5 separate regions of the Homo sapiens genome follow, and regions 2, 3, 4 and 5 are each linked to region 1. Evidence: fine-mapped expression QTL. A gene starts in region 1. Each other region holds a variant in brackets. All regions are shown on one strand. Distances are from middle to middle. Region 1 holds the start of MCTP1 (multiple C2 and transmembrane domain containing 1). Region 2 overlaps MCTP1 (multiple C2 and transmembrane domain containing 1). Region 3 overlaps SKIC3 (SKI3 subunit of superkiller complex). Region 4 holds the start of LOC105379085 (a long non-coding RNA gene). Region 5 overlaps MCTP1 (multiple C2 and transmembrane domain containing 1).

Evidence for each region. PIP is the estimated chance that this variant, and not a neighbour inherited with it, causes the effect.
Region 2: its variant is fine-mapped to the expression of MCTP1 in whole blood (TOPMed, PIP above 0.99).
Region 3: its variant is fine-mapped to the expression of MCTP1 in cerebellum (GTEx, PIP 0.92).
Region 4: its variant is fine-mapped to the expression of MCTP1 in tibial artery (GTEx, PIP above 0.99).
Region 5: its variant is fine-mapped to the expression of MCTP1 in skeletal muscle (GTEx, PIP above 0.99). The same link has a PIP of 0.9 or more in esophagus muscle, left ventricle and visceral fat.

Annotation. Positions count from the first base shown.
Region 1 is chr5:95,281,448-95,287,866 of GRCh38, forward strand. MCTP1 (multiple C2 and transmembrane domain containing 1) reads right to left here and starts at 3,647. Exons shown (of 23, transcript NM_024717.7): 1 at 2,409-3,647. The coding sequence starts at 3,128. RefSeq lists silencers at 2,736-2,855, 2,936-2,995.
Region 2 is chr5:94,701,896-94,708,314 of GRCh38, forward strand. MCTP1 (multiple C2 and transmembrane domain containing 1) reads right to left here. Exons shown (of 23, transcript NM_024717.7): 23 at 1,795-5,672. The coding sequence ends at 5,601. Among named protein-coding and RNA genes, the nearest start is that of SLF1, 86 kb to the left of the region's middle. RefSeq lists an enhancer at 1,253-1,322. The variant G/C (reference allele first, on the strand shown) is at 3,308.
Region 3 is chr5:95,468,271-95,474,689 of GRCh38, forward strand. It overlaps SKIC3 (SKI3 subunit of superkiller complex), which reads right to left. Exons shown (of 43, transcript NM_014639.4): 41 at 1,510-1,640. Among named protein-coding and RNA genes, the nearest start is that of FAM81B, 80 kb to the left of the region's middle. The variant A/G (reference allele first, on the strand shown) is at 3,384.
Region 4 is chr5:95,135,024-95,141,442 of GRCh38, forward strand. The region is part of intron 1 of MCTP1 (multiple C2 and transmembrane domain containing 1); the gene reads right to left. It overlaps LOC105379085 (a long non-coding RNA gene), which reads left to right and starts at 3,551. Exons shown (of 8, transcript XR_948575.3): 1 at 3,551-3,721. The variant C/A (reference allele first, on the strand shown) is at 2,842.
Region 5 is chr5:95,073,688-95,080,106 of GRCh38, forward strand. All of the region lies in intron 1 of MCTP1 (multiple C2 and transmembrane domain containing 1), which reads right to left. Among named protein-coding and RNA genes, the nearest start is that of MCTP1-AS1, 98 kb to the left of the region's middle. The variant A/T (reference allele first, on the strand shown) is at 3,169.

The DNA.
Region 1 (6,419 bases):
TGCTGAAAGCCATTATTTGTGACTCATTACAGAGAAATCTCTCCACTTCCCAGAGAACAAGGCCCCATGAGCAGCAGACGCTAGGGACCAAAAATGGTATCTCTTTCTGGGACTGTGTCTGGCATTGGGCAAGTCCCTCAGGGTTTACCATTCTGTCTGCCTATATCCCATCTTTCTCTTATTTTTTGAAAGATATTTTAGCTTTTCTATTTCTCTTATGTCTATGTCGAAATGCTGATTCTCTATAATGAAAAGCTTCTTCAGAGTTATAGATCATGATAATCTCATTCGTGACAAAATATACATGCAACAATACATCACAGAACAAATTACAAATTATGATAGCTAATCCATCATAGAATTGATTGTATATAGGGATGGGGAAAAATCTCCAGAATATACGTAAACTTGCAAGGCTCTACTTTCATCAGTAAGACCAAAGACATCTAAAAAATGGAACAAGTTCTAAAAGTTGTCAAAGGTAGCTGTCATAATGGAAAAAGATTCTGGAGACTGACTTGAGTACAAAACTTCTCTCTGTCATCTACTAACTACGTGACCCTGGAAAGCTTATTTAACCTATGTGAGCATTGGTTTACGAATCTGTAAAGTGACAATCACATAGGTCTGCTGTGAGGGTTAAACTATGTAGGGCTATAAAATGCCCAGCATATGGTGAAGGCATACATAATAGTGTTAATTTAGTATCTTCTCCAGAATAAGTTTATATCTTTTGTATACAAAATTCATACTTACATAGTAGTGTTTTTTTTAATAAAGATTGACAGTTTCTGAAAACTTTTTGGCAAAAAGGAACATAAAAAATTCAGAGTTATCTATTTTTGCTTTAAAAATATCTTGGTTCAGTGAACTGTAATGTGATTTAATAAGTTAACATTCACGGTAATATGATATATACCTTTCAAAATAATTCAATTATTATTTGTTATTCTATTATCCTTGATAGTGAAAGAAAAAAATGTAAAGTTCCCCAACTCTGAAATTCTTCTACATTAGGATTATGTACACGCTCAAAAATAAATACTTCCTTTAATATATAGTATTCATCTATACTGAATTTAAAACATTCTTCTAAAACCATTTATCACTTTACTTTTAAAACCAAAAACAGGGGCTCTATCCAGTTCACTTTCAAGATGACAGGAAAGGTAAATGTATTTGGTCTTTTTGTCACTATTATCTCTACTTACTCTTCTGAGAATAAAATATTTTTCTGGATCATCAGGTGTTTGCTTACAGCAAGCAATTTTGTTTATTAAGGAACAAAACATATTCATATTCTGCTTTACTTTCTGGAGCTACACTAAGAAATCAGTCCATGAACTATAAAAACTTCCAACTGAAAGCCTATCTATTCCCGTATCTTACCCTTCAAACACAGCCTGTTTCTTTGTAGCTGAGCTTTTAATCTACTAATAACTAAAGTTTTAATGCAAGTGTCATTCATCTAACATAATTAATCAGAGTCAAAACAATGAGAAAGTGTAAGTAAACTAAGATATATTGGGAGAAAAATGTTCTTTAGGTCTCTGGCAGAGTGAAACTTCCAAAATATTTTCTAGAATTAAAATGATTTGATAAACATTTACAAAAAGAGCAGTGCCTCTTCGAAATTGAGGGAGTAAAAACGGCTATTCAGTGGGACACATTGTGGGTCCCACACATAAAATTTCTAGTAAAAGCACTTTTACAAACCTTGACTCTTGTCTGAGCAATCAACATGATGTATAAAGCAGCATACTTTAAAAAGCAAGTGCTTCAGGTGACTATTAAAACTTCACAAGGCTCATAGGAACATATGCATTTGACTAACTGGGAGGAGACGCTCCCGCTGTCCACTTGAAGGGCGGTGATCCAATTGCAGCAGGAAGGTTTAAGAAAGGGGTGCCGGATGCAGGCCTGAGATGATGCTTTCCCTGGCACAGGACCTCACATGTGCCATAATTTACCTCTCCACGTTTCTATTTCTTCCCGCCAGCCATTTGCTTCCAATGGTACCTCTCCACACCACCACACGTGATCGTAATTGTTTTTAAGTTATTGGGTTAGTTTTTTCTTTTGCCAAGATGAGATTTGGCTGGACATCTCCTTTCAGGAGAACTCTAAAAAGTACCCACTTTAGGTCTAACTTTTCATTGACTACTCAGAAAGCTTCTGGTGACAGGTATCATTTCTACCAAAAGTAAAGTCCGGGTGCAAGTCAGAACTCTTTCATCTTTGCTAAACCAGAGCGAGATGTTTTCTTTCGACTGTTTCATCTACTTAGAATTAATAGCATTTCTCCTCCCGCCTCCCGGCCCCCGCCCCCCGCTCCCCGGGTGGTGAACGCCTGAAGAGGGAGGCGTGGTCCCGCGCACCTTGTCTCCGGCCGCGCCACCGGCACTCACCTGGCTGCTGCCGTGCTCCTCGCCCGTCTCCGGGGCCCGAGACTCCGCGGGACTCCGCGCCGGCTCTGCGGGAGGAGGCGGCGGCTCCAGCAGCTGCTCCAGGCAGGCGGTGCCCGGCAGAGAGGAGCTCTTCTGGTGGCACAAGTGCGCCCCGGGGCCCTGACGCCGTGCACCCTCATCTCGGGCGCGGTCCCCCCTCGGGGGAGGCTGGGGCGAGGAGGACAGGGAGGATGAGGCGGAGGAAGAGGAAGGAGCTGAGTCGGGGGAGCGTCCGCCAGGAGGCGTCCCTCCCGCTGCTCCCGAGGCCGCCGCGGGCCCCTTTACGGCGGGGAGCAAATGCTCGCGGATCCGGCGGCGTAGCGTGGACCCCTGCTCGGCTCTGCCGGCGCCGCCGGGCTCCAGGGGCTCCGGCGACGAGCAGCACAGGTTGGGCTGCGAGGAGGAGAAGACTCGGTCCAGCACTTGCTTCCGCTTCTTGAAGCCGCTCCACCTGCTGCCTGCACCACTCCCCCTGGCCGGTGCATTCCCTGTGCCCACCGGGGGTGGCGGGGAGGGCGACGGGGTGTCCGCAGTGCGGCGCTCTGGACCCCCAGCGCGCCCGCCCCCGCCGCCCTTGCTCCTGCCCACCCCCAGCTGCAGGTTCTTCCAGAGCCGGGCCTGGAAGGAGGAGGACGCCGCCGGCGGCTCTGGCTCGCCCGCCGCGGCAGCCCGGGGCTCCATCCTCCACCCCCTGCTCCTCCTCTCCCCTCCTCCTCCTCCTCCTCCTCCTGCTTCTCCTCCCTCTTCGGCTGCACCTCCTCCCGGGTCCCCGCGGCGCTGGCGGTGGCGGCGGCGGCGGCGGCGGGCGCAGCAGCAGAAACCGGGAGTGCCCAGCGACTTCAGGCCAGCTCGGGGGAAAGAAGCGGCCGCCGCCGCCGAGGCTCTCTGGCCTCGGGACTCCGGCGCTGCCTCTTCCTCCCGCACCTGCTGGGGTGGGCTGGAGCCGTAACCGAATCCCGGCCGCGGCGCCTGCAAAGTTTTTCCCTCGAAGCTCCGCGGCTCCAGTCCACTGGCGTCCCCCAGGCCGCGCCCTGGCTCCCTCTTCTCTCTGACCGAGCTCGGGAAGCTGCACGCACCGGGGCGTGCGCGTCCAGCTGCGCCAGGGACCGCACCCGGCGCCCTCTGGGCAGCACCTGTCAGCGGCGGGGGCGGCTGCCTCCAAATTGGGCGCGCACGCGGCTCACACAACAAGGCGCGTCTGGCTGGAGACTCCGGGGACCAGCAGTCCCCCTGGGGCGCCCCGGGACCATCCTCCAGCTCCTAGGTGGGAGGGCCGGTAGGAGCCGGGTGGAGCTAGGTAGGGCCCGAAGCCAGCTTGCTCCCTAGGATCCGGCCACAGTTGCCCAGGCAGCTCGCTGTGCGCTGGCCGCTGGCCGCGCTGGCGATCGTCTGGGTCGGATGAAGCGAGCTGGAGTGGAAACTATGTGCCCTCGATGGGTCTCGTGGGGGCGCCGATCGTCCACACTGAGCGATGAACCCGACGGAGTTCTAAAGCTGAAGACGTCTGCCCCCGCCCCGTTGCGCTCCCTGGGTCCAAGACGAGAGTTTAATTTCTTCTGTCTTGACTTCATCCCCATCCACCCCTCCCTTTTCTTTATTTGCCTCTGCACTGGTCTCTTATGATCAGGTTCTAGCATTTCCGGAGTCTGACGATAAAGCCAGCCCTTAAGTTGCAGGGAGTTTACGGTGGACGAAGATGGGTGATGCGCACTGCCTTTGATCCGATTCGGCACGCACAGAATCTTGTTCTTTTCATTCAAGCGCATTTTTTCTTTGGTTACTTCATTTGCTTGTTGCAAGGCAAACGGAAAAGGCTTTTTAGCTCATTCAGACTTTGCTTCTCCCAAAGCTGCTCAGCCAGGGTCTTCTGATTCTGCTAGGAGAGACTTCTGAAAGGCCAGCAACACAATGCCTCTTTCGTCCTCCTAAATGGGGAAAACGGGAGAGTTCCCTAAGCTGCGGTAGCACACTGATCAGTCTTGTCTAGCTAGCAGTATGCTTTGGAGGTGTTACCAACCTAAGTTTTTTGTTTTGTTTTGTTTTTGTTACCTTTATAACAAATATTTATTAAGCACCTACTATATACCAGGCACTGTGATAGGCTCTGGGGATGCAGCTGTGAACAGGGCATCAGGGTCCCACCCACATGGAGCTTATTGTGAGGGTGAGGGTTGGGAGGTGATGCGAGACAATAAACAGAATTTCTAATATGCAAAAGTCCCATGGAAACAGTTAAGCAGGGTACCACATAACAGAGTGGCTACAGAGGAAGAGCTTCCAGACAAAATGCAGGACACCCAATTAAACTGACTTTCAGAGAAACAATGAATAATATTAGTATATGTATGTCCCAAATATTGCATGGGACATACTTATACTAAAATACTATTATTTATCTGAAATTTAAATTTAACTGGGTGTCATGTTTTTGTTTGCTAAATCTGGCAGCCCCATATGGAGAGGTTTTTGGTTTTTTACATTATGTGTACAGGGAGAGTCTCTCTGAGAAGATAAAATTTTGAGTTAAGACTTAATGAGGACAGAGAACCAGCTATTGACGGATCTGACTGTAGAATTTCAGGTAGAAGGAACAGCAGATACAGAGGTCCTGAGGCAGGAAGCAGCTTGACTGGGCATATTCAAGGACAGAACGATACCACTCCAAATAGAGTAGAGCAAGGTGGGTGGGGTTGGTAAGAGATGTAGTGAAACAAAAGGTCAGCTAAGGGAGTGGGTCCTATAGCCAGAGTGAGAGTCCATGTTTCCTCTAAATGAAATTGGGAGACATTAGAGGTCTTTTTTAATCGTGAGGGTAATGTGATGTGATTTACTAATACTAATGCCAGGTATTAATAAATAGCCTCACAGGGCTATTTTGAAGATTAAGTGGAAAAAGGACTTAGCTCAGTGCCTGTATATAGTTGATATTATTGTTATTTGGTAGACCCAGTATTTCCCAAGTATATGAATACTATGCTTTGGAAAAAGAGCAACGTGAATGGAGAAACACTGGGCTGCATTTAAATAATATTATTGAAATGACAAGATTATAGAGATGGATAGTGGTTGCCAGGGGTTAGCGGTGGGGCAAATGTAAAGGATCAGAATAAAGAAGTTTATTTGTTATGATGAGACAAATTTAGATTGTGGTGGTGGTTACATGAATGTGTGTTATACACAGGATAGGACTGCATAGAACTACATACATATATGAATGCACATAAAAACGTGACATCTGAATAAGATAAGTTGTACCAATGGCAATTTCCTGGGTCTTAATATTGAACTATAGTTATGTATGATAATATCATTGGGGGAAATTGGGTGAAGGTCACACAGGAGCTCTATGTAGTATGTTTGCAACTTCCTGTGAGTCCATAATTATTTTAAAATTTAAAGTATAAATAAAAGCAAACAATAATAAAGCATGTTTTTTTGAAAAAATTGTGTGCTGCTGAAAGTTTTCCTTTGGAACCTTAATAATTAGAGAATGAAACAGTCTTAGAGCTACGATGGCCTACCCTTTCTTTGTAGCTCTGTTCTGGCCAACCCCACCTAATTCCTGAGGAAGCCTCTGAGAAGCAAATGAGGGAAAAGTCAGGACTGGTGAGGCAGAGTCCACATTAGGGCAAGCTCACAACTGCAAAGGTAAACACAGAGGCTGTGAAGCACTCTCCACACAGAATAAGAAAAGCCAACCACATTTGCCTTTATGGAGGTACCTCCCCACCGGGTGAAAGCAGAAGGGTTGGCATTTTTCACTGGCTTTTCCTTCCTCTTCACTCCAGTTTCCTTTCTCTGTATTTTATTTCTGTGTTAGTCCTTACTTTTCAAAGTTTCAGGTAAACCTTTTAAAGTTTCAGTTAAAACTCTTCAGCTAAATTATAAATATCATAGCTAAGTCTAACTGTGTAAGCTGGTGGTGGCTTAAGTGTTAACTCTCTCTGGAGTATTTATGAGCTTTATATATGG
Region 2 (6,419 bases), 580 kb before region 1:
ATTATTTGCAACATTAATGCAGATACAAACAACCCTCTGTTGAGAGAATTCTGAGAGTGTCTTACCACAGCTCTCCAGAGCATATTATTTTGCACCTCTTCTGTGAAGGCCGGCAAAATAGCTTCTTGAAAGGTACTCTTTTAAGTAGTACAACTCAGAACAATCTTTTTACAGTTGTGTTTTGTATAAATATCCTGGATACCTACATGGTAACTATAGTACAACCTGATAGTATCAATCTGTTTTTAGGGGGAAGATTTCTTACCTACCGGTCAGGGCTGTTGTCACAGTTATGGGAGGGAAATCAAGTACATATGCATTAAATGTACTATGTATCAAGTACGTAGCATCATAGTGTGCAAGATTGGATGGTGAATACTTGGTACCCCCAATCCATAAGTCAGAGTATTTTGCTTTTGCTTAAATTACCAAGCGCTGTATGTTTTGATTTTTAAAAAAAGTTTTTCTCTTACTTCTGAAAATGAATGTTTTTAAAAGTGATGTTAAGCAATTTCACACAAATAATGGAACATCACATTAATCTGTTTAAAAACTCCTTTGTCAGATATGTATAGTGTTTTCTGGATGGCTTCTCGTGTGCTTCAAAGACCCTCTTATGTTTGCTAGGTTCTCTGTTAATGGAAACTGAAGTTTGTAAGAGTTTAAGGCCAAACGTAAGAGGTAGGTATACCATTGTGTTTTTTTGCTCAGAAATTGTTAACTACTTCCTCTATTATAAAACAAAGATGACAAAATTACATACTCCGCCTTGTATAATAGCAAATAGACACTTCTTTGTAAAATTTTTCCAAGAGCTTATTAGTTCTTGACACCGATAAATTGTTTTCCATGGTTGCAGTGTTACAAGGTACACAGAGATTTTGACTTTTCATAATTACTACTATAGAAAAGAAGAATGTTTTGTGGGGCATGTAGTTATAAGGTTTCAGTTCTCTGATAGCTTTATTAAAAAGGGTTCTTTGAGCTTGGGACAAATATGTCATTTCCTTCCCCTCATCTCTCTTCTGTGGTCCAGCTGTCTCTAACAATGCTTGACTATTCTCAGGTGTCTCCAGTAATGCAAAAGGCAAGTATGAGTAGTGAGGGCCAGGTGTGCTTTTTCTATGAATTTAGCATTTCCTCCAAACCTGTCACCATTTGAACTCTGGCAAAATAAAATCCCTCAAATGGACTCAAGCCCTTTTGAGCTTGTCTTTGACTAGAAAGTGAAACTGAACCTATATTATCATCTTTCTTCACTAGTGGGAGCAAGTTCCCACTAGCAAGTGGGAGTGAGTTCCACTCAGCCAGGCCTCAGGATCTCCTTAAATGTATTCCTCCAGAGAAAAGATAGTTTTCAGGTTCACTCATTGGTTCAGGTTGGCCACTCCTTTTCTCTTTGGAAGGAACATTGAAGAATCTGTAGTAGGGGATAATTGCACTGCAATTTTAATTTTGCTACATACTGAAAAAACGTAGGCACGGCTACTTACGTAAACCATTTCCGCTTTCCTTGAAACAAATCTTTCTGCCTAATATAATAAACACTTAATTGACTAAAGCAGAACAGCAGTGTATTTTACTTTGTAAAAAATGGAGTAATAATTTTTCAGTGACATTTGGAGGTACGGATAATCATATAAATTTAAAAACCTGTCTTTACAAAAATACTGCTTGTGCATGTAATAGAACACTTCTTTTGTATGGGTTTTTGGTGGTTTTTTTGTTTTTTTCTTTTTTTTTTTAAGCTTAGAATGTCAAAGAAGAGCCCAATAAATTGAAACTCATTTGAGGTCAGTTACAATATTTGATTGTTTTTATTTTTTGATTCTTAACCCAGATCCCTCCTTTGAAAAGCACAGATAGAATCATTAAGTTCCAGGAAACCTTTCATGGTGCTCTTAGTTTCTACATTGTATGATTGCTTTGGACATTTGATAGTTTTTATTTGCATACTATTTTTTAATGAGATTTTTCAATAGTATTTCTCAAATTTTAGCCATTCAGCTGAAGTAAATCTTATGTGACTGCCTCTATTCAAATTGCCACTATATAAAAGAAACTGAGGTACCAGAGGGTAACATTTTCACCAAAAAAAAAAGAAAAAAAAATGTTTTGTTTTCTTTCAGTGAGTTACACCAATCATCCCAGGAAAAAGAATTATAATTGAAAGGAATGACACTATTGTAAGAAAGAATTTACCACATTATTTTCTATGTGGTTTTAATTCATACTTTACTGAGCAATTAGAAAAGGCTGATTCTAGATACCCTAATCAAACCAACGAATAGACATCATCTGTACACTCACTCACACTAGAGTGTGAAATCACGCTATTCATTTAAAGCCCAAGAATTTAAGCAAGTATTAATTTAGCAATACCTGAGACGTTTTTCAAGAAGTATAATGGTAGCTGTCTTTACTTGTATTTCTGGAGCAAAAAGGTATAACTGCCTTATACCTTTTTGTTTGTTCTTAATGCTTAGTCAACATTATAAACATTTAGGCCCATTTAACAAGTTTATTCGCTGAAATTACTGCCTTTGAATAACATTAATACAAATGTAGACTACTTTGAGCATAGGAGACCTTAGATATGAGATCAAAGTGGAAAAAAAGCTCCTGTGGTCCCTAGATAAGCATTTACTTCTGAGTTTTTCTTCACTTTTAAATGCAGAATAAAAATTTTATAAAAGATAATTTTAGAAATGTATCAATTAAATTTGGCTCTCACTGTACTTCAACTCCAGATTTGATTTTAGTATACAATCATTGGTTTGACCGTTGTCTATAACAGGGTCATACAGTTGGTATTCGATAAATATATCACAGAGTCCTTTTAAGAATCTCCCAACTCAGATTATCCTAGTGCATATAGAATGTTCAAAAACTGATTGATTGATTGATAGGTTCTGTAGGAATTCCAGTTTTTGAACATTCTATATGCACTAGGATAATCTGAGTTGGGAGATTCAATCAATCAATCAGTTTGAGTCTGGAACAGTACCAGAATGAATGAGAAGTACTATTATGTTCTTTTTGATAAGTGGGGAAAAATTTAAAAGCACAAATACGCATTTCTTATGAATTATCACAACGAATGTCAGTAATAGTTTATGAATATAAATAATGACTCAGTGAATTTACTCACTAAAAGATACTAAAGGAATATATTTAGTAGTTCACAATATCTATAATAGTTAGCAGTCCAAGTAGATGTTTGAGTGACATTCAGTCTCTTAAGAAATATTTACATCACAGATCTCAAAATGAAGGCAAGTCAGGCAGCTCTCAAGACAGAATTGCA[G/C]CTATGTGAGAAGGGGAAAGAAATAAATAGTTAAAATTTTAACTATACATATTCTGTTTTCAGCCTGTGAATGTAGTAGTTTCTAAAAGCAATGAAGATTTCCCTGAATATCACTTTTGTGCCTCAAGCTAGTTCTTATTCCTCTGTTAATGTCATTGGTTGCTCACCCCTCCAGAGGTATTTTCATATAAGAGTCAGAGTTTCAGGAAAAAGGTCTTATTTGTTTAAACCAAATCTGTTTTTCTCCAAGTGACATATAGTTTTTAAGAATATGCACACAATCCCTCATCAATCTCTGAACCACCAAAAAAAAAAAAAAAAGGAGTGCTGATTATACGTGGGAAAGATTATTTTCTTTTGTATTTAATACAGTGAATGTGTAGTCAGCATTACCATTGAACTAAACATCTGAAATTTGATACAGTGAAACAAATTAGTCATCTGTTAATGGTTACTATCCACTAGATACATCTGAGGTTGTAGAATATCAGGCTTATAGACATTTGAGTACACATTGTCAGCACAGAACATAAAAGTCTCACATAAGGTATAATTGAAAGTTATTTCAAACAGTTATCTCATCAATAAACTTTCTGTAGTAACATCATGTTCATGGAACATTATGTTTTTAGCAACAAACAGTGATGGTATGCAGACAGAAGCATGTCATTTTAAACATGATACATTAAATAAAGCATGTTGAGGTCAAAGCCTTTCTGTAGAAAGGGAATTTAATTGACATTCAAGCATAGTATATAAACAGATCAAAATAGTTCTATTATAAGAAATAGTATTTAACAACTTATCTCTAAAATAAAAATACTTTAAAAATCAGCTTCAATGAGATTACATTTATTGTTAAAGAATCTTCCTTTAGAGTGAAATATACATTTCTTTTAGCTTTTCTATAGTTTTTCCAGTATAACCCCCACTTTTACCCCATCCAAGTTTATTATTAATAAAGTAGTGCAAAGCATTGTCTGCTGCAATTTCAACTGAGTGTAGTCCCCTACCAAGTCAGGGAAGTAAGACATTCTCAACCAACCAAATTATTTTTTCTCCAGAGTTATGCTCCCTTAGTATACCAGGGAGTGAGATATAAAAACTACTTTAAGAGTCTTGGGAATGCAATTTTTAAGTATAGATTCTATGATAATAGTGAAACATTGATAAAGGCAACCACCACCCCCAAGCAGTTTATTTTATTTTACAAAACAGGTTTTCATGCATAATCAAGAATGATTTTTTTTAATAAATGAATGTAGTGAAACACTGGCATATCACTTAGCACACTGAATTCTCTACATTAAAATTCACACTAATAACAAAATCATAGTATGAATTAAAGCATTTCAGTAATCTAATGAGAAAGCAGGTTTTTTTTTTCTCTGAGAGCACTTGAGTATTTATTAAAATATTTTTAGATGCACAGATACAATCTGACACCAAAAGCGATATGGATATAGTTTCCTAGTATTTTTGATAACTGTACTTACTGGGTTGCTAATTTGCTAACTAACTGTATAAATTAAAGTAGTGGTAGGTATAAAAATTCAGATAGGCAATCGTTTATAAACTGGCAGTATTTATGTTATGTAGTCCTGTAGAGATTTTAAGGTTTTAGATGGAATGATTGATTGAAATTCTATAAAGAAAACTTTGTAACCTTCTGAGTATTGATTCTCTTGAGGGAGTGAATGTACCTTCACTTATTAGCTTAAAATTAGCCTAAGTCATACCTAAGTAATTTGCACAGGAGTGAATGTCGGGATCTAAAGCCAGAATATATGTTAAATTGAAATGTATCCATTCCATTATTCAGGCTTTGGAATTTCCCTCCCTTTTGAAATGTATAAAACATAGAAAAGTGTAATGGATTACTTTTCAGATAAAAAATAGTCGCATTAAAAAAAAACTTTAAAATCAAATCGACATTTACAATTGATGTAGATTTAATCAGAGCACAGGTGAGTATTTAATCCACTAGTAATTAGATAAGAATATATCTTCCAGTGTTATCATTCTTATATTTGTTCTTTCAGTGTGTTATATTATTATCCACAGCTAACAAGGTTTTGACACAGCAGTAGCAAAACCTTTATCAAGTTGAGTCTGTACAATAGAAGTATATATTCAAAGACATATGCCTTTGTACACTATTTACAGATTCTCTCGATCATGATAAAAAGGCAAAATAAATAAAAAGCAGAAAGAAAGGAAATGCTGCTGAGGCTGAGGGCTTTTTCTTTTATCTTCCCAAACAGATGCTGGTCTCCTCAGTGCTGGGAGCTGGCTAGCCAAGATTGTTTTTCTTTCTTTTATATGGGCTATGAGAAGGATCTGGTTTCAGTTCTTGGTATTGCACCTGTTTAAACAGAGTTCAGAGGAAGACTGGTCAGGTGGCCACTTTCTGGCAAAGAAAGGAACAGCAAAGGAATGAGAGACGGTGCTTGGGGGAAGAAAGTGCTCACTCTAGAAGCTGTATGGGATCTGCAGCTGAGATGCAGAAAGCAATAGAATGACAGAGCAAGAATAAGGGAAATCCTGTTGGAAAGTACATGGGGCCCTGATGTGAACTTTAGTAATGGTATTCACTGTCTATAACACATTACATTAAAAGTAAAACCATCTACATCAATTTTTTAAAGGGCTCGATAATGGTTTTTTACAATTTATCGTGTGTTTGCTTAATACAGTCTTAATCTCCATCCAGCCCACTGTCATGTCATAGCAAATGAAAAAGGTATCACTGTAACCCAGCTTCAGGATTTAAAAAAAAAAAAACAAACTTCTTTTATTTTGAAAACAGCTGATGGTTAATGGGCATTAACCTCAAAGGATTTTTGAGATATGCTCCACTCTTCAAAAAGCAGTCAGCTTTCCTCTCCTCATTGATCTCCAAAATATACTTCTTCAAAACTTACTTGTAACTCTTGCAAATTCTGGAAAGACTTTTTTTTCTTAAATGTCCACTGGCATATTTTGCTTTCATCATCTAATATTCCTGGTTTCCTCCCCTCAGGTCATACTCCCTGTCACAAACTCCAGCTGAACTAACTTGGAGGAGGATCTTCCCTGACAGCTCTGGTAGGTTCTTTATGCAACTGCTCTT
Region 3 (6,419 bases), 190 kb after region 1:
TTATTCCAAGTTATCCTCATTCCAAAGAGAACAGAGAGACAGTCGCTATTTTATAATCTACTTTGAGTGCTCTACCTCCAATCTTTTTGAAAAGTAGGCAGAAACTAAATAAGTCACTAAATAATGCAAGGGTGATAAAGAGTGGAACAAGAAATATTCAATGTCTACATTACAGGCTATGTATATCATATCAGGCTTTTAGCATATGTTTTCAAGGACGTGTATGATAATGTAAACCCATGTAATAACAGGCTGATTTACAGCTGTGTTCTAATTTTTTCTTTCCTAATTTACTAACATCTATGACTCCAAAACTTCTGTACTGCTAAAAACAACATAAACCATTAGTATATTCAGAACTGCTAAACAGAAAGATCTTCTAAGTAGCAATTAGTTTGAAGCAGGAACTAAATAACTTGTCTTGAAGATGCTTTTGCAGAGGGATCACGTAGTAAGCACGTTGTTATTTTTCTTAGACTGCATTTTTATTTGGGCTAGGTTTTGAAGGCGATAAAAATTATGGGAGGTGTTAACAAAGATTATTGGGGTAGGGGGTGAAGGGGAGATAGTACTCTCTAAGTTACCAACACTGAGCATGAGCAGAAGTAGTTCATTAGGAAGTTTAAATTATAGCCTAAAACATTTCTTAGTGAAATTAGTCACACATAAAAATGGCCCCAAATAAATAAATGTTAATAAATAGTGCTGGAGTTGCTAATCAGCCATATGGTCTTAATCTTCCACCATCCCTATTTTGTGATGTGTCTTTTGCTACATATTTATATGTACTAACCTCCATTTCTACCATACCTATTCTGTTCCAGTGATGTTTGCTCCTCAATCACTGCTTTACTTACAGATGCTTTGTATTATATGTAGTATATATTAGAACTAGATATTTTCAAAATATTAAAGTATTCTTGCCTGTATTTTTTACCCATATGATCTTTAAGTAATTTTCTTCAAATTTAAGTACACTTCTTTCAACATAAACATTGCTATAGAATTTTTGTATTTTAATCAGAGCAGCTTTTGGATTTTCTAGATAGGAAACCACATCATTTATAAACAACATATCTCTGCCTTTTCAATATTTATTACTTTTTTCATAGCTTATAACAATAGCAAGAACTGATAATGTAGCCTTGTGTTGGGGTCTTTTGGTTTTGTTTGTTTCTAGAACCCACATCACACTGTTGGTGCCTCCTAACACAGTGAAGAACAAAAACTCCAAGACCTTCTTCACTGGAAATGCTATCATGCCAAACCCCTCATGCCCTATAAATATGTATCAAATTGCCTTTTTAAACAAATATAAGGCTTTGTTTCTCCCTTACTGGATTTCTGGAACCAGTTCTTCCAAAGTAGATACAGATATATAAATACCCCCCAAAGTTTGTTAAATTGGTCTGTTACAAACTTTAAAGTTTATAATCTTTCCTTGATTATTTCCTAGAAAGATTTAAAGTGAAGAAGCATTTATAAGAAAAAGATGAAGATTCTTCATACCTTGCCCCCATTTTGCGTTTGAATTGTAACAAAGCTTGTAAAAGAACAGCCAGTGGACAAAAGCAAAGCTTCAAGGCCTCAGTTGTAGCCTCTTGAACCAAAGATGGCCAGTGATCATTGGAAATGTTAGCCTATAAAAATATAAGACAAATATTAACTCAAAGATTTGGCATATTTATTTGAAAAGTATTCAATTCAATTCTTTTTTTTTTTTTGAGACGGAGTCTCGCTCTGTCACCCAGCCTGGAGTGCAGTGGCGCGATCTCGGCTCACTTGCAAGCTCTGCCTCCCAGGTTCCCGCCATTCTCCTGCCTCAGCCTCCGGAGTAGCTGGGACTACAGGCGCCCGCCACCACACCCGGCTAATTTTTTTGTATTTTTAGTAGAGATGGGGTTTCACCATGTTAGCCAGGATGGTCTCGATCTCCTGACCTCGTGATCCGCCCACCTCGGCCTCCCAAAGTGCTGGGATTACAGGCGTGAGCCACCGCGCCCGGCCAACAATTCAATTCTTATTGAGTACCTATTTGAGCCCGTCACCATATAAATAATACAAAGAGTATAATTACTACAAAGAGATTTAAGATCTGATCCCTGCTCTAAAGGAGCTATAAAATGGGGTAGACTGGGATAAAGGAGGTTTTCAAAGAGGAGATATTTAAAAAACACTAAAATATTTGTTTAAAGAAAATGCACTATTATACTACATAGGTGAATAAAATCTATCAGTCTTGTGTCTACCAAATATACAAAACTCAATTTAACATAATTGATTCTTTAACTGGTAGTGATAAATATAGAGTTCTACATTTCAAAAATTATCTAAGGAGAGAGGAAAGGCTGAAATAAAGTATTTTAATAAACTCCCAATATAAAAAAGTACAAAACAGATCAGAGATAAAGGTATTAAATCAAAGTAATCAGTACTAAAAACTTTTTAAAAATTTTACTTTATGGCTAAGATATTAATGTATCTATATATTACTTGGGTTACAAGCTTTATTCTCTCTCATATTAGGTACTGACTCAGAAATAACAAAGGTAAGTATTTCTGAAGAAACAGTAACAAACTAAAGTGATGAACACTTTACTGAATTATGTAAAGAGAAAAAAATGCATTAAAAAGTTTCATTTAAAAAATCTCAAATTTTGACGAAGATTTCATAACCACAAGTATCTAAAATATGTATTTTAATAAAGTCAATATAGTGAGTCAATATATATAGTCTATTTCAAACATTAAATTATATAACAAAAATTAGAGCAATTATCTCTGAGTGCAGTATAGGCAATAGCAATTTGTATAATCAAGTAAGAGGAAGCTATAATGAATGTGAAAATAGACAATAGTGGTTATGATGCATCTTCTATAAATAGTGGCTACTTTGGGTACATCTGACAAAGAAAGTAAGGCAAAGCACATTCTAATACAATTATTCTTAACATCTTACTAAAAACCAGTAACATAAAACTCTCACTGGATGCTTTTAATAATATACTCTCTAAATTCTATGAAATCATATAAAACACTCTGTAAAGTTAGCCCAAAGATGACTTTATAAGGAAAAAGTTACTATATATACCTGGCATATTAAACAAAGTGATCAGAATGCACTTCTGTTTTCTTTTCCCACTACCTGTTCAACATTTATTTGAGAGATACTTTTTCTGTGTCCCTGGATGTAAATTACATTAGGCCCCATGAGTCTTATTCCATTTTTCTTACATTCATCCACAAATACAGTCTCAATTAGAATGTCCTCTTTTTTTTTTCAACACTTCAGTCTTTGCTGAAAAGTAATATTTGCACATACTTCCCTGCCCCGCCCCAATTCCCCTCAGCTCCCAGGCTAGAGTATGGTTACAGGCAGTAGC[A/G]GGTGGCTGGTTCCTTTTCCCTAGTACTGCCAACTCCTGTGGCTAATTGTAGCTTCAGGACCCTACTGAAATACTAGAAATTTGCATTTAACTGGTGCCATTGTAAGGTGGTGCCAAGCTCTCCAGGGTTGACAGATATTTAAAGCTCTTTTTCTCAATCTGGCTTTAGCAGAGACTCCCAACTTCATGGGTAGTCTCTCATCTGCAGGCCCAGCAACATAAGCTGTGGGGCCCAGTGCAAAATAAAGTGTAGGGCCCTTTGTTGAAAAATTACGAAGAGTTTCAAGATAGCAACTACAGAACATTAAATCAAGTATGATGCCCTGTGTAACTGCAGAGGCTGCATGCCCATGAAGCCAGCCCTGCTCATCTGCAGTTCCACTAATCTAGCAAATGTATTCTATTCTTCTCACTCTCTCCACATCCTCTAGCAATGTGGAAACTTCAGATTCCTTTCTGCTGACATCCCATCATCCCTCTAGGTGGCCTTAGTGAACAGGATCTAGGATAACTCCTACACCAACCCACTCTCACCACTGGCATTGCTCATTTCTGGATCTAACAAACTCTGAGAGTGTTGCTAATTCTGTCTGCAGCAACTCTCCTTCATTCCTTCCTCCCTATAGCACAAGGAGATACTCCTGCCTACCCTTGGGATTAATCTACTGTTGACCATTCTCTCCCAGAAACATGGGATCACTTTCTAAAACGCTAGCAATTCTCCTCTTCTCTGTCCTAACACCTAAGACTGAGTGCCACCGTCTCTGAAACAGTTAGATACCTGTTTATATGCTTCTAGACACATGCTTCCAGGACCCCGGAGGACACAGATTGAAGCCTCCCTCTCTCTGGTAGGACCCCCTTCCTCAACTTTGTGTGTATCTGTCTGTAGAAGCATGCCAGGGGGAAAATGGGTGAGGCAACAGCCCTCTCCAAAGAAATGTCTTCACAAATCCTTCTCTAACTCCACTCTCCTGATGCCTTTTTTTTTTTTCTAAAGTTTAACTTCAGATACAGAGGATACACGTGCAGGTTTGCTCCATGGGTATATTGCACCCAGTTAGGGAGCATAATACCCAACAGGTAGTTTATCAATCCCTGTCCCACTCCTTCACCCTCAGTGGTCCACAGTGTCTGTTGTTCCCATGTTTATGTTCACGTGTGCTCAATGTTTAGCTCCCACTTACAAGTGAGAACATGCGTATTTGATTTTCTGTCCCTGTGTTAATTCACTTAGAATTATGGCCTTCAGTTCCATCCATGTTGCTGCAAGGGGGACATGATTTCGTTCTTTTTTTTATGGCTGTATAGTATTTCCATGGTGTATATGTACCACATTTTCTTTATCTAATCCACTATATGGCACCGAGGTTGATTCCATGTCTCTGCATTGTGAATAGTGCGGTGATAAACACATGAATGCATGTGTCTTCATGGTATGATGATCTATTTTCCTTTGAGTGTATACTCAGTAATAGGATTGCTGGGTCAAATGGTAGCTTTAAGTTGAGATATCTACAAACTGCTTTCCACAGTGGCTGAACTAATTTACATCTCCACCAACAGTATATAAGCATTTAAGCATTCCCTTTTCTCTGCAGCTTCACCAGCACCTGTTATTTTTGTTGTTATTGTTTGTTTGTTTGAGACAGGGTCTCAAGCTCTGTGGCCCGGGAGAGAGTGAGAAGGCAAGATCTCAGCTCACTGCATCCCAACCTCCCGAGCTCAGGTGATTCTCCCACTTCTGCCTCCTAAGTAGCTGGGACTACAGGTGCATGCCACTACGCCTGGCTAATTTTTTCTATAGAGATGGGATTTTGCCAAGTTGTCCAGGCTGGTCTTGAACTCCTAGGCTCAAGTGATCCACCCGCTTTGGCCTCCCAAAGTGCTGGGATTACAGGCATAAGCCACCACATCCAGCCTGTTATTTTTTGACTTTTTAATAATAGCCATTCTGACTGGTGTGAAATGGTGTTTCAGTGTGGTTTTTATTTGCATTTCTCTGATGATTAATAGGGATGAGCATTTTTTCATATGTTTGTTGGCCACTTATATGTCTTCTTTTGAGAAGTGTTTGTTAATGTCCTTTAACTGTTTGTTAATGGGGTTATGCTTCTTGCTTGCTGATTTACGTTCCTTATTGATTCTGGATATTAGATCTTTGTCAGATGCATAGTTTGTGAATATTTATTTCCCATACTGTAGGTTGTCTGTTTACTCTGTACATAGTTTCTTTTGCTGTGCAGAAGCTCTTTAATTAGGTCCCACTTGTCAATTTTTGTTTTTCTTGCAACTGCTTTTGGAGGCTTAGCCAAAAAATTCTTTGCCAAGGCCGACGTCAAAAAAGGTATTTCCTAGGTTTTCTTTTAGAATTTTAATAGTTTGAGGTCTTGCATTTAAATCTTTAATCCATCTTGAGTTAGTTTGTATATATGCTGAAAGGTAAGGGTCTAATTTCATTCTTCTGCAAATGACTAGCCAGTTGACCCAATGCAATTTATTGAATAGGGGAGTCCTTTCTCCATTGCTTATTTTTGTCAGCCTTGTCAAAGATCAGATGGTTGTAGGTGTACAGCTTTATTTCTGAGTTTTCTATTCTATTCCATTGGTCAATGTGTCTGTTTTTGTAGTAGTACCAATGAATTCCCTCAGTATTTGCTTGCCCTTCACTTATTTAGTTTAGTTTCGTGGGATATGAAATTCTTGGTCAGAATTTCTTTTCATTAAGGATGCTTCAAAACAAGAAAATAAAGAAAAGAAAAAAGGAAAAAAGGATGCTGAAAATAGGTGCCAAACTCTTCTGCTTCTAGCTCGTAACATTTCTGCAGAGGTCTGCTGCTAGCCTGATGGGATTCCTCTGTATGTAATTTGACCCTCCTCTCTAGCTGCCTTTAAGACTTCTTCTTCTTTTGCATTGACCTTGGTAAATCTCATGCTATGTGCCCTGGGGATGATCATCTTGTACAGTACATAGCTGGGGTTTTCTGTATTTCTTGGATTTCTATGTCAACCTCTTTAGCAAATTTAGGAAAATTT
Region 4 (6,419 bases), 150 kb before region 1:
AAAAAATTCCTTCTTTTTCCAGATCAGAAAAAAAAAAGGTCAGATTCAGATACTGAGGTATGTGAAAATCAGTATTTCACTAGATCAGGCATAGTTCCAATACCAGTATAAAGAAACAAATCTGAAAGAAAAGAAATTATGTTTGCAAAACAAATATGGAGACAGATTCTATAACTCTGGAAAGATATAGTAGATAATAAGAATACATATTCTCAACTTTTCAGTCAGGGACCATAATATCAACAAATCACAAAGAAAGAAAGAAAAATATACACTATGGTGGTGAATTGAGAATATTAATGATAACTATGACTTATTGTTTATAACCTGAATCCAAAAAGTCCTATAAAATAAACAAGTTTTCAAGTTGAATGAAATATCATTAGCTTTAGTGTGATGGTTGATACTGAGTGTCAACTTGATTGGACTGAAGGATGCAAAGTATTGTTCCCAGGTGTATCTGTGAGGGTGCTGGCAAAGGAGATTAACATTTGAGTCAGTGGGCTGGGGAAGGCAGACAATCTGATCAGCTGCCATCGAATATAAAGCAGGCAGAAAAACGTGAAGAAGCAAGACTGGCCTAGCCTCCCAGCCTACATCTTTCTCCCGTGTTGGATGCTTCCTGCCCTCAAACATCATTCTCCAAGTTCTTCAGTTTTGAGACTCGGACTGGCTCTCCATGCTCCTCAAGCTTGCAGACAACCTATTGTGGGACATTGTGTTTGTGTAAGTTAATACTTAATAAACTCCCCTTTATATATATGTGTCTGTCCTATTAGTTCTGTCCCTCTAGGGAACCCTGACTAATGCAGTAAGCATAATAGTATTTTGGTTCAATAAACTGAAAACAACTACAGTAAAAACTGGTTTATTGTTCCAAATCAGTTCATTAAACATTATACATTTCAGAGAATCACAAGCAAATGTATTGAAAGCCAACTCTGGCATCCACTTGGAAGCTTACAATTAGAGTAGATTTCAATATAATTGAAGTAGGTTTTAAAATCTGTCCCTAAACTACTTTATTATCCTCATCTCCTGCATAGCATCAGCCTTCTACCTTCCCAGAACATTTAAGCACTTGCTTCTCCTCATGTACATGTCTTGGTAATCATTATTTCTAAGCCTTGGTATCCCTTCTCCCTCTCTTCAACCTTATCCACTGGTCTTATTTCTGAAGACCCAATGAAATATCACTCCTCTGTGAATCCTTCCCTAACACCCACAAGAAGAAATAACTTGCTCCTGTGTACTCCCCCAAAACATTTTACTTCCTTTGTCTTCCCAGACAATTCTTGTTATCCTTTGGGCTGGTCTCTTAAGCAAATGGCTCTATTCATTCAGGAAGGGTTCAGGCTTGGTATCTCTGATTTGTGATGAGATGTTAAGTTAAGCTATCTGCTCAATTATGTAAAAGATGAATTGGGATGAAGAGGGAGAGGAGAAGGAAGATGGAAAACGGGAAGCTGGAGACAGAGATGAAGTGGCGAGGAAAAAAGTTGGGGACAGGGAAAATTCAAGGGGGAGGGAAGTGGGGAAGGGAGGAAATCTTTGCGGAAGGAAGTCAAGAAGAGAGAAGAGTGAGAGAAGACGCTCTAGCTCACAATAGAGTTTACAATGTGTCCGACTCTATGTTTTTAATCTTTACAATAATTTTATATGTAAATACTATTAGTATCCCTATTTTACGGATGAAGAAACTGAGACAAGGAGATTTGTGTACCTGGTCCAGAATCTCACAATTAGGAAGAGGCACAGCCAGAGCACTAACAGAGGTCTAGATGCCTTCAAGGCAGAGCAATAGTCACTACATCTTCCTGCCTCACATTGATCTGCCTTTCAGTCAACAAAGAGTAACTTCAGACTCTTGCCTGGAACTATTTCCTGATCAATTTCATCAAGACTACAATGGAGAAAAATTATATTTTGTAAAGGTTATTTGTGAAGTATATGCCACCCACTCATCTAGACAGCCTAGGTTTAAAACCTCAACAATGAAAAGAATTACTAAGGTATTTCACTTATTCATTTTCAGCTTATAGCAGAAATTCTTTCCTGAATTCCTTCAGTGTGATGCCCCCTGCTTACCTTCAGCGATGTTATAAGCAACAGCCTTATGAAATCTAGTGCTGTATTTGTTGCTGGCTTGTAGCTTAGGACCTAGAGCCTCACTAGAGGAGGCAGGAAGCTTGCTTCGGGGGAAGTATAACCTAGTGATGAAGAGGATAGATTCCGCAATTGTTCAAGCACTGCTTCCAGTTGTTACTATGTATTATGTAAAGTTTATTGGATTCTCCAAGCCTCAGCATTGTCGTCAATAACACGATAGTCCCTGGCTCACAGAGTTGCTGTGAAGATTTATGAGAGAATGCTTGTAAAACACTTTGTACCATGCCTAGCACACAGTAAGTGCTCAATACATATCATCATTAAACAGTATCCCCCAAAACTAAAGTTGCATGCAATATCTTTCAGGTCTAGATTCTAGCAAAGATTTTGCCTCTCTTAAAGAGTTGACATCCTCTTATTTGCATGGACATTGAACTTCTCTTTTAGCTTTGGCCACTACTAAGATCAAAGACAAAATTTCACCTCAACTGTGGCACATTTGTGGAAATCTATTGCTTGTATGTAGATCTCTAGTCTAATATTGTTTTCCATTTCATCTATATTTTCCCTTATTCTGATTGTCTATTAGTATATACATTATTGTAAGCTGCTTCAAATATTTGTGGAATAAAGCAAACATCATAAATGAATTAATAATTCTGCTTTTTTAATGTCTGCTCAATCACCAAAAAAGGCTGTTTCCCTAATGTGGGGAACATATTGATTCCCTGC[C/A]AAACCAAACTTGATGATTTGCAAGCAACATGTTCTTAGAAAACATTTACTGAGTACTATTCAATATTACTATTGAATAGTATGACTATTGAATTACAGGAAATATGATACTTAATAAAAGTCCTACAGAAAACACTGAAATTCCAGTTCTAGATAACAATCACGCAAATGTGTTTTCAGATTACTTCAAATTTTTTTTTCAATAGGAAGTGTTTTTCTCCCACTTTTGTTTTTCTGGTCATCTTTTACAGTAATTTCAAGTCATGCTCTTTTCTCATTCTCCCAGGAGAAGAACTGTGCTATGTCTGCTACTGAACTCACTATGATTGTGTACCAAGATGCATTCATAGACTTTCCTGTGAGATGCAACCCCCCCCCGACATTAAAATAATATGTGTTTTGGAGCTCGATGGGAATATATGAGCATTGAGACTAGCTGCGCCACTTTTTAGATGAGAAAACAAGGCCCAGAGAGCTTATGAAGATGGCAGCAGTGGAGCTGAATAAGAACACAGCCTTGTCAATCTCCATCCAGGTTTTTCTCACTATCCTCTCCTGTAACTTTCTAGAAGAGCAAGTGTCATAATGATGGAAACTAAATTAGTCGCATACACAAAGAATCATCTGTTCTTTCCGTTTAAGTTTCCTTTCTAAAATGCCTTATTATACAAACAGCAAACTATTTAAAGAGAGGTTTCCTGGAATGAGTGTTACTGGTCTGGAAGGGCCTCTGAAGAGTCCAGGAATAGGTCTGCTAACCAAAGGAATGACCCCCTCACAGAGACCACCACTGACTGCCATGTGAGCCGCCGTCCCTCCAGCTGCCCTCACTCCACCGGCTGCTCCCTCTCACATCCCTCTCTGGATTCCTTATCACAAGGTATTATTATCTTCTTTATCTTTTCTTTGTGCATTTAGGGTGTTGTCACTGCCTCTAGTGTGCAAAGTACACCCTGCCCGTTAGCTGGATAGGCAATTTTTAACTAGTTGTAATGTATGTGGACAATCTCATTATCAGTTATTTTCAATTAATTCTTTTTCTGATGTGTCGAATTTGTCACAGTCTTCATTTAGATCTGTTTCTCTATCTGTATATTATACACACATACACACACACATTATAAGGTTGTCAGTGTGATCTTAAAATTAGAGTTTATATGTTCAAAATATTTAATATTTAGAACTTGTATAAAACATTTAGGGTTTTTTTTTCCTTTCAAATAGTCGTATTAGTTTAACATCAGCTAAGAAACATAATTATGATTGAACACATCCATCAAAAAAGTTAGATCTTCATGTTAAAGCCCAAAATAAAAACTCTAAGCATAGAAAATTAATGGATGCATGCTAATTGCCAGAAACATTTGCTGCTCAAAACAAAGAAAATAGAGCTGAATTATATTATTCTTAATGTCTTTGTAATCTAGAAGGCTTTGTGAGAATATACCCAACATGAGGAAACAGGGTTAGAGATTTACAGATATTTGCATGCTTTTCTTTCCGGCAAATGCAAATTTCTTAAGGAAATAAAAAGATCTAAACATTGCACCATGTCAAATGAAAATGAGTGCAGGTGAGAGCAAGATTTGCCTGTTGCAATATCTTTGCCTCTCACTTAGGGAACAAGAGAGCTTCTTTTTTTACATTTTCCCCTTTTTTTCCAAAGCTATTTTAGCCAAAGGAATTTTTAAAAGGAGTCTCAAAATCAACCTTATTTTAAAAAGTTAATTTTAAAAAGATAAATTCTTGCTACTCACCAAAGGTTAATTTCTAGATCAAAGGTTTCTATTTTTAGTTACATATCCAAGAACACATCTAACTCTAAACAACTGCAGATCCACAGAAGCTGTTTCCTTATGAACAATGTTAAGTGGTATTGGCCCCATTTGCCACTAAACTGAGAGCTCCTTAAAAGTGAAAATTTTCCTTAATTTTTGTCTTATTATCTAGCCCACAGCCTGATGCATAGGGCTTAATAAATGGTTGAATAATAAATGAATAACGGAATGGTAATCAACTTTAATATTTACAAGCTTTGCTTTAAAAATAAAATGATCCAGAGAAGAAACAGAAAAACATCAAAATCATTAAATTTAAAAGTGTAGCTTAAAGAGAACTTGATGGTCTCCCTGAGCTGCTCTTCCATGCTGGAATCCCCTCATCCAAAGCTAAACCCACTTTCATCTCAGCTTGACCTCTACCTTCCAATGACACTCATGCTTCCAATGCAGACAAGATTTGGAATTGCAGAAAAGGCATCTCATTTCTAGAGAGGATGGATAGGCTTTTGCCTCCAGGAAAGTAATCATTCACTCTCTCTTCAAAAAAATTTATATTTGCAAAAATGTGTTTTTTGCCATCTGTTTCATTGATTCTGGTCCTGTTTTCCACAGTGCCAGCTATCATTCATGTCCTCATCTGCAACCCGGGACTTTGCAGCAGGATATTGAAGGTGTTTAAGGCAATTAGTAACACGGGAAAAAATGCACACAATTGGTACTTTTGTTACTTCTCTATAGTCCAGAAGAGACCTTAGGAGGACAGAAGGCATTTTCATCAAACAGCAAATTATTCTAAGCAGAAACTTTTAAAATAGACTGGTATTTTGAAGATTTGAAAATTTTAAAGGGTAAAAGCATATTCTTTTCAGTCTCTCAAAAACTGCTGTCACAAAACTTTTGGGCTATTTTTTTGCTTTAAGAACCATTTAACGGCCGGGCGCGATGGCTCACGCCTGTAATCCCAGTACTTCGGGAGGCCGAGGCGGGTGGATCACGAGGCAGGAGATCGAGACCATCCTGGCTAACACCGTGAAACCCTGTCCCTACTAAAAAAAAAAAAAAAAAAAAAAAAAAAAAAAAAAAAATTAGCCGGGTGTGGTGGTGGGCACCTGCAGTCCCAGCTACTCGGGAGGCTGAGGCAGGAGAATGGCGTGAACCCAGGAGGCGGAGCTTGCAGTGAGCAGAGATTGCGCCACTGCACTCCAGCCTGGGCGACAGAGCGAGACTCCGTCTCAAAAAAAAAAAAAAAAAAAAAAAAAGTGCCATTTAACGAGAATGTACTAGAAAAGATTATGCATCCCTTCTATGATCACAGTTTCAGAATGAAGTGGTTTCTAATGGAGGAGGCATAAGACAAGTCCAAGAAACTTGGTGTATCTATCCTTATCAAGAATATCATCAGCTCACCTTCACGGTAGAGGAGTTTACCTATGCCATCTCTCTTTCCTAAAAACCTTAAAGACGGGGTTATACTGATTTGAAACTTTTTTCACTTCAGCTTACTCAGGCTTATTAACTAAGAGTAAGATACATAACTTTTGACATTCAAGTAAAATCTCACTAATTTGGATTGTATAAATTTGGAATCTCTTATCAAAAGTTAACCTTTGCTTTAGTTACAGACATTTAAAAGAATTTGATGAAGCAAATAAAATGTGTAAAATGATTGCCACGGGCGTATGCTGGTTACTCAAGACCACAGTTTGTTTTAAAAACACTTCAGTAATCCACTAAATACCTACAGTTACTCTGCAGATTAAATCTGGAATATCTGCCTCTCAGCGTCTAGCCCTTGTG
Region 5 (6,419 bases), 210 kb before region 1:
ACAGGAGCTCAGGTGCCTCCCTTCAGTGTTTCCTGGTTGATACCCTGGTTGTTGGCATCATCAGACCCTCTCCTTGAAGCATTCTTGGTGCCCCAGGTTTTCTTAACTTGGAGTGTGTGTTAGAATTACCTGGGCTTTTCTTAAAATTTATACTCTTGCTCATGCCTGTAATCCCAGCACTTTGGGAGGCCGAGGCGGGTGAATCACGAGGTCAGGAGTTCAAGACCAGGCTGGCCAACATAGTGAAACCCCGTCTCTACTGAAAATACAAAAAAAAATTTGGCCGGGCGTGGTGGCGGGTGCCTATAATCCCAGCTACTCAGGAGGCTGAGGCAGAAGAATCGCTTGAACCTGGGAGGTGGAGGTTGCAGTGAGCAGAGATGGTGCCACTGCACTCCAGCCTGGGCGACAGAGTGAGACTCCGTCTCAAGAAAAAAAAGAAAAAAAATTACACTCTTGGGCTCTACCCATGACCTAATGATTCAGAATCTCTCAGGCGTAGGCCTGGGTACATGTAGTTTGAGCAAGATTCCCTGGTGAATCTGCTATACCATGCAGTTGAAGAGTCACTATCCCGTAAGGTGAAGGCCAAGCCCCTTAGCACCATCCACTTGAAGGTGTAGAGGACTGAGCACTTTGAAGTGCTGTTGCTTGGGTGTGGCCACCCAACTTCTGGAGGGGCCACTAAGAGAGATGGCTGGCAACTCCTAGGGCATTACTACTTTGATGACAAAGGTATAATTAATAGTTATAGAGTATTGTTTAGTAATCAATTGTCATTTGTTTTGCTAAATGATTTGGATAGGTGTATACATTTTTGCTAATACAATAATTTGTATTTATGAAGTTTGAACACGCATTTATTTTTAGGATCTGGAAAGTTGGAGCGGGTGAAGTATAACCAATCTTAGGTGTGCACAAGTGGTTAAATGTGGACCTATCTGTGTGATTACAAGTATATGTGCAGTGCCAAGTGAATAAAAATGAAGGCAGACTTTCAGGTATGCGGAAAAGCTTCTAGGTAGAATCTATGGTTCTACGTAGGGCGTAAAATATGTCCTTCCAAAAAATATGGCTCAAAAAAATGTTTCGTGGCCACAAGGAAATTAGGTCAAGCTTAAATTGATTTATGCTGTGCACAATTAACATTTTAATAAGCAGGAAAATTGAATGCAGAATTTAAATACTAAATTCAGATAGGGATGATCCTGTTGACTGATGTTGTAAAAAGATTGCAGAGGTACATGACAGCAACCCCATGCCCAGCTTGGCTCTGTCGGGAGCTGGCTGTATAATTTTGGAAAAGTCATTTAATTTGCCTGTGGCAGAATATTTTTTATTTGCAAAATGAGAGGGTTGAGCTAGTTGATCTCTAAGGCACCTTGTACTATCAACATTTTGTAAATATGAATTATACACTATTCAGGTAAAGAAAGAGATCATGGACATTTTACAGCTGGTACAACACTTTGAACTGCTTTGACTCATTGAACTGAACTTTTAAAATCAAATGGGTACTTTACATACATTTTCTCTAATCCTCACAAACTTTCAAACAGCAGGGAAACCAAAAGTAACTCTACATATCCTTGGTCTCAGCTTAAAAGTCACTTTCTCACAGAGGACTTCTCTGAGCCTATAAATATAAGTTAACTTCCCCTTTTATTCTCTCTATAATGATGTTTGGTTTTTAGTTAACTTATCAAAGTGATGTTTGGTTTTTAGTTAACCTTCTCCTTAATTTTGGTTTATAAAACTTCAATTAAAATTGTAAAATGTAAAAATAATCTCTCACGAAAACTTGCAAAAATAATAGATACAATGAGGAAGAGGTCAGAATATAATGGGAAGAATATTTTAATGCAGCAAATATAGTTTTCAGTCCTTAATTTCTGAAAAAAAATTAATGTCTGATATATAAAAAAACACCTAGATGGAGACGCTGCTCTTTGTTTTAAAGCTCCTGCCATGTGGTCTAAAACTTGTGTATATTTTTACCTTATTTAGTTATATTTGATCAGATAATTTTACGTAAAAGTTTTATCTTTGTTTCTACCCCTTAGAAAACTTGAAACAATAACTTTCTTAACACTTTCTCTCAGAAGTGACTATTCCCATTATCAGTGGCTTCCTAGTGGTAATCTGGATACTTGTGGAATTGTTATATAGCTTTCAAAAACTCTTGAATATTCATATGCTGTGTTATTTTTCAATAATTTAAAACCAGTAATAAGGCTACAGAGACTTCCTCTGTCTGGTGTATTAATGATTCTTTGCAGCTATTTACACATTTAAAGTACAGTAGTCCCCTTGTCCTCAGGAAATATGTTAGAACACCCCCAGTGGACGCCTGAAACAGTGGATTGTACTGAACCCTATATATGCTATTTTTTTCTATACATATATACCTATGATAAAGTTTAACTTATCAATTAGGCACAGTAAGAGATAACAGTAACAATAATAAAATAGAAAATTATAATGATATATTATGATAAAAGTTATATGAATGTGGCCTCTCTCTCTGTCTCTCAAAATATCATACAGTACCATGGGTAACTGAAACCTTGAAAAGCAAAACTGTAGATAAAGGGGTAATGACTACTGTACACATTTGCCATGAACATTCATTTGTTTACATTAAGCATAGCATTTTTCAAACTCCAGGTATGAGCTTAGTGAAAATTTTCCAGGTGGATTAAACTTAGAAGTAATTGTTTCAGAATTGATTTCAAGATTCACAGGAACCATTAAGCTGAAAAAGGAAAAAAAAAAAAAAAAAGGAATCCCTATCTTAAAATAGTTCAAAGACTGCTGGGAAATATGAGAACGAGTCCTTCATTGACGAATGTTGAAACTGAGTCTCAGACTGCAGTTACATGGAGTTAAGGTTTCCAGTGGGCCAGGGTAATGCTGTCCACTGATTGCTGACTTAGAACACGCTATTTCTAAGCGAGGGAAATCACCACCAGAAAACAGTGAGCCACAGAAATCAAATGTATTTCAAATAACACAACGCATCTGTACATAAAGGAATAGAATGTCCTCAAACCGTGAAAATATGCTATTTTGTTTAGGGGTGGGGGAAAAATCTATACGATAATTGGTTTTTTTCTTTTTTCTTTTTGTTTTTAATGACTCCTTTGGGTCAAAGCCAAATGTGTAATT[A/T]CCCCAGTACAGTTGTTTCCATTGTTTAAAACTTTTCACCCTATTTAGTTGTGCTTGATCAAGTATTTTTACAGGAAAATATTTTCTGTATTCCCTCCCCGCCTTGTAAACTTGAAACAATAACATCTTAATACCATCTCTGAAACTTGCAGAATTTCCTAACTCAAGCCTTTAGTCACCTTCCTTATTTTGGAAATGATCACTCACAATTGACTAATTGTGCCAAATAAATTTTGATTCCCAGACTCTTAGTTTGAGTTCTCTAATGAAATATTGTGGGGAAGAAAGCTCCCATTCCAAAATGAAAAGAGATGCTATATACTTTTGTAAACAAGCATTTAAAAATGATCTTAAGAGTACCTTTCTTTTTTGATATTCTGCCATGACTGTTTCTTCTGCATCTTGGTTATTTTCTTCATAATAAATTATAAAATAGTCAAAGTTTAACAATTCTCATTAATTTAGGTGTTCAAATTTATTTTGACCTTTTAATTTTATCCCACCTCTATCTGTCTCTTTTTTTCTCTGCATATGAATAATGTGTGTAAATATATATGTATATATCTGCACACATTTAGCTTTTGAATCAAGGAAGTAAGCAATTATGGTTCATTATATATACTTTTTTTTTTTTTGAGACGGAGTCCCACTCTGTCGCCCAGGCTGGAGTGCAGTGGCGCAATCTCGGCTCACTGCAAGCTCCACTTCCTGGGTTCACGCCATTCTCCTGCCTCAGCCTGCCGAGTAGCTGGGACTACAGGCGCTCGCCACCACGCCCAGCTAATTGTTTGTATTTTTAGTAGAGACAGGTTTTCACTGTGTTAGCCAAGATGGTCTCGATCTCCTGACCTCGTGATCCGCCCACCTCGGCCTCCCAAAGTGCTGGGATTACAGGCGTGAGCCACTGCGCCTGGCCAGTTCGTTATATATAATTTTAAAAACTAACATGAAATAGGAGGAAAGGCTTGTGGCAAGAAATGGCTTATAGCTATGTTCATTCCACATTGAAAACTATCAGACAAGAAAATATGAGATGAATTTAGGAAAACTCTTTCACATCTCATACATCATTCCTCTGGGCCCACATTCTCTAGTCTGGTCCCAATCCAGTGTCAGGTACATGAGTCATGACTCAACAGATATGGGAACACCTTCATTTATCCCTATCATCCATCTATCCATCCATCCATCCATCCATCCATCCATCCATCTTGTTTGCAAGACCCGAGGAAACATGAAGGTTTGAAAGTTACCCAAGAATTTCAAAGATAATTTGTGGAGTCTCTGGGGAAAGCAAATCAAAATGGACCTAGTTGTATAACAGACCTAAACTTCTCCATTCTACAATTCGTTCAATGTGCTCCTTCCCAAATGATGACTTTCACCAGGAAATGTTTAGGGAATGAACAGAAAAAAGGCAGACATTACATTAATCTTCTATCAAAACACAAAATTCCCTAAAGCTTTCCTGGGACTGTATCAGATAACTAAATATAGACTGAAAATTGTTTCTGCCCCACCTGCACATCAAAAACAACAACAAAAAAGGGAAATCTTGTTGTATCACCAAAGACTATGATCACCTAGGAGAGCTCTCAGTTATGTATGCTCATTCCAGACATATTTTGCGTTAATAAAAGCCCCCATCTTATGTAAATTCACGAACAACTTCAGCATATTTCTGGTTCATAAAGGCCTGGGTTTCACTAAGAATAAGAATGTTGCAGTCATTAAAATGATTAAATGTAGTAACATTAAAAAGACGTATTTTCCTCTCTGTAGTACTTTATAGCAGTCATTTCAAATTACTAAGACCAAAGGATTCTAACAGAAGGTGGCACAGAATGTAATTAAGCATCTTGGTTCTGCAGCCTACCTAGGTTCAATTCTGGTCATTCTACTACTAATTGTGTGATGTCAGGAATAACTCATTTAATTTCCTTGTACTTCAGTGTCTCCATCATAAAAAGGAAATAATAATAATAATAATAGAACCCATACCTAATAAAGTTGCTGTAAGAAAAACAGATAGTTCATAAATAGTTATTATACAGTCTGATTTAAATGCTAGGCATTATTATTATTTTCATCTTGGAGAGAAATCCCTGTAGAGTGAGATTTGGAACTTGATTTGTTATATTTCAGTATGCTGTAAATTGCCGCGAATAAATACTACTAATCCTATCCCACTAGTGAAATGACTCAAGCAAAGGGAGACTAAATGACTAATTTGAGTATCTCAACTAAATTAAGATGGAATTAAAACCCAACAAACCATCTCCATAGCTTTCCTACTTGGGTTTATCTCAGGGGGGATAAGCATTACAAATCTCAGCACTTATAACAACAGACTCTCCTGGTGAGTTCAAAATGCTTCATCTACCTTAATGTTCACAGGATCACTAACATATACTAAGCACCTATGGGAAGTATGGGACTGTCATCTAGCATTACAGTGTTTCCAAACTCTGTAGATAGAAAAACAAAATCAAAAGAAGACAAGGGCTTCATTGTCACCTCCAAAACTAGAGGTTTTCTCTGATATTACAAAGAAGTGTTGATTCTTCCCACTGCACTCCTATAGCCCAGGGTTTTGTCACATAGACCACATGCTATCTCACTGCATTTATATTTAGCAAAAATTTTAAAAGATATATGCCTATTAATTCCATCTGTTTACCTTCATCTCTTAATGGTCATATAGCTGATTTGTATAGTTCTTGGAATCAAAGCAAACATGAACTTTATTACAAAGCAGAGCTAGGATTTATTCATAAGATAGCATGATGATAAATTCCACTTATCTCTTGAAACTATACATTGCAGCACAGGATATGAAGATAGCATACACTTTTCATATTTAATAAAAAATATTTTATATTTTTTATTAAAATAAATGGTGATCATGTTTTGAATTTTTAGAAGGAATAACTTTTATTAATATCACCAGCACAAGAAAACTTTTAATTAATTGTCTTCTAAATCTTAAGAGTTAAGAGGTTTTAAAGCGAAGTTTTGTTTTCAAATCTATCATGTTCACTGGTATAGTAGGACATAAGTCATTAACTCCTCTAATTGTGAAAAGTCATCTTTTTTCTCTTCTCATAGCCTAAAAAAGAGTACAGTTATATAAATATAAAATAGCAGATCAATTCTAACAGAAAGGGTTGGAAGTTCATTGGTTGTTTACATTTTTCTTTTCTCTTTTTCAAAGATAAGCTTTGGAGGAATCTCTTTTTGCTAACCACTTT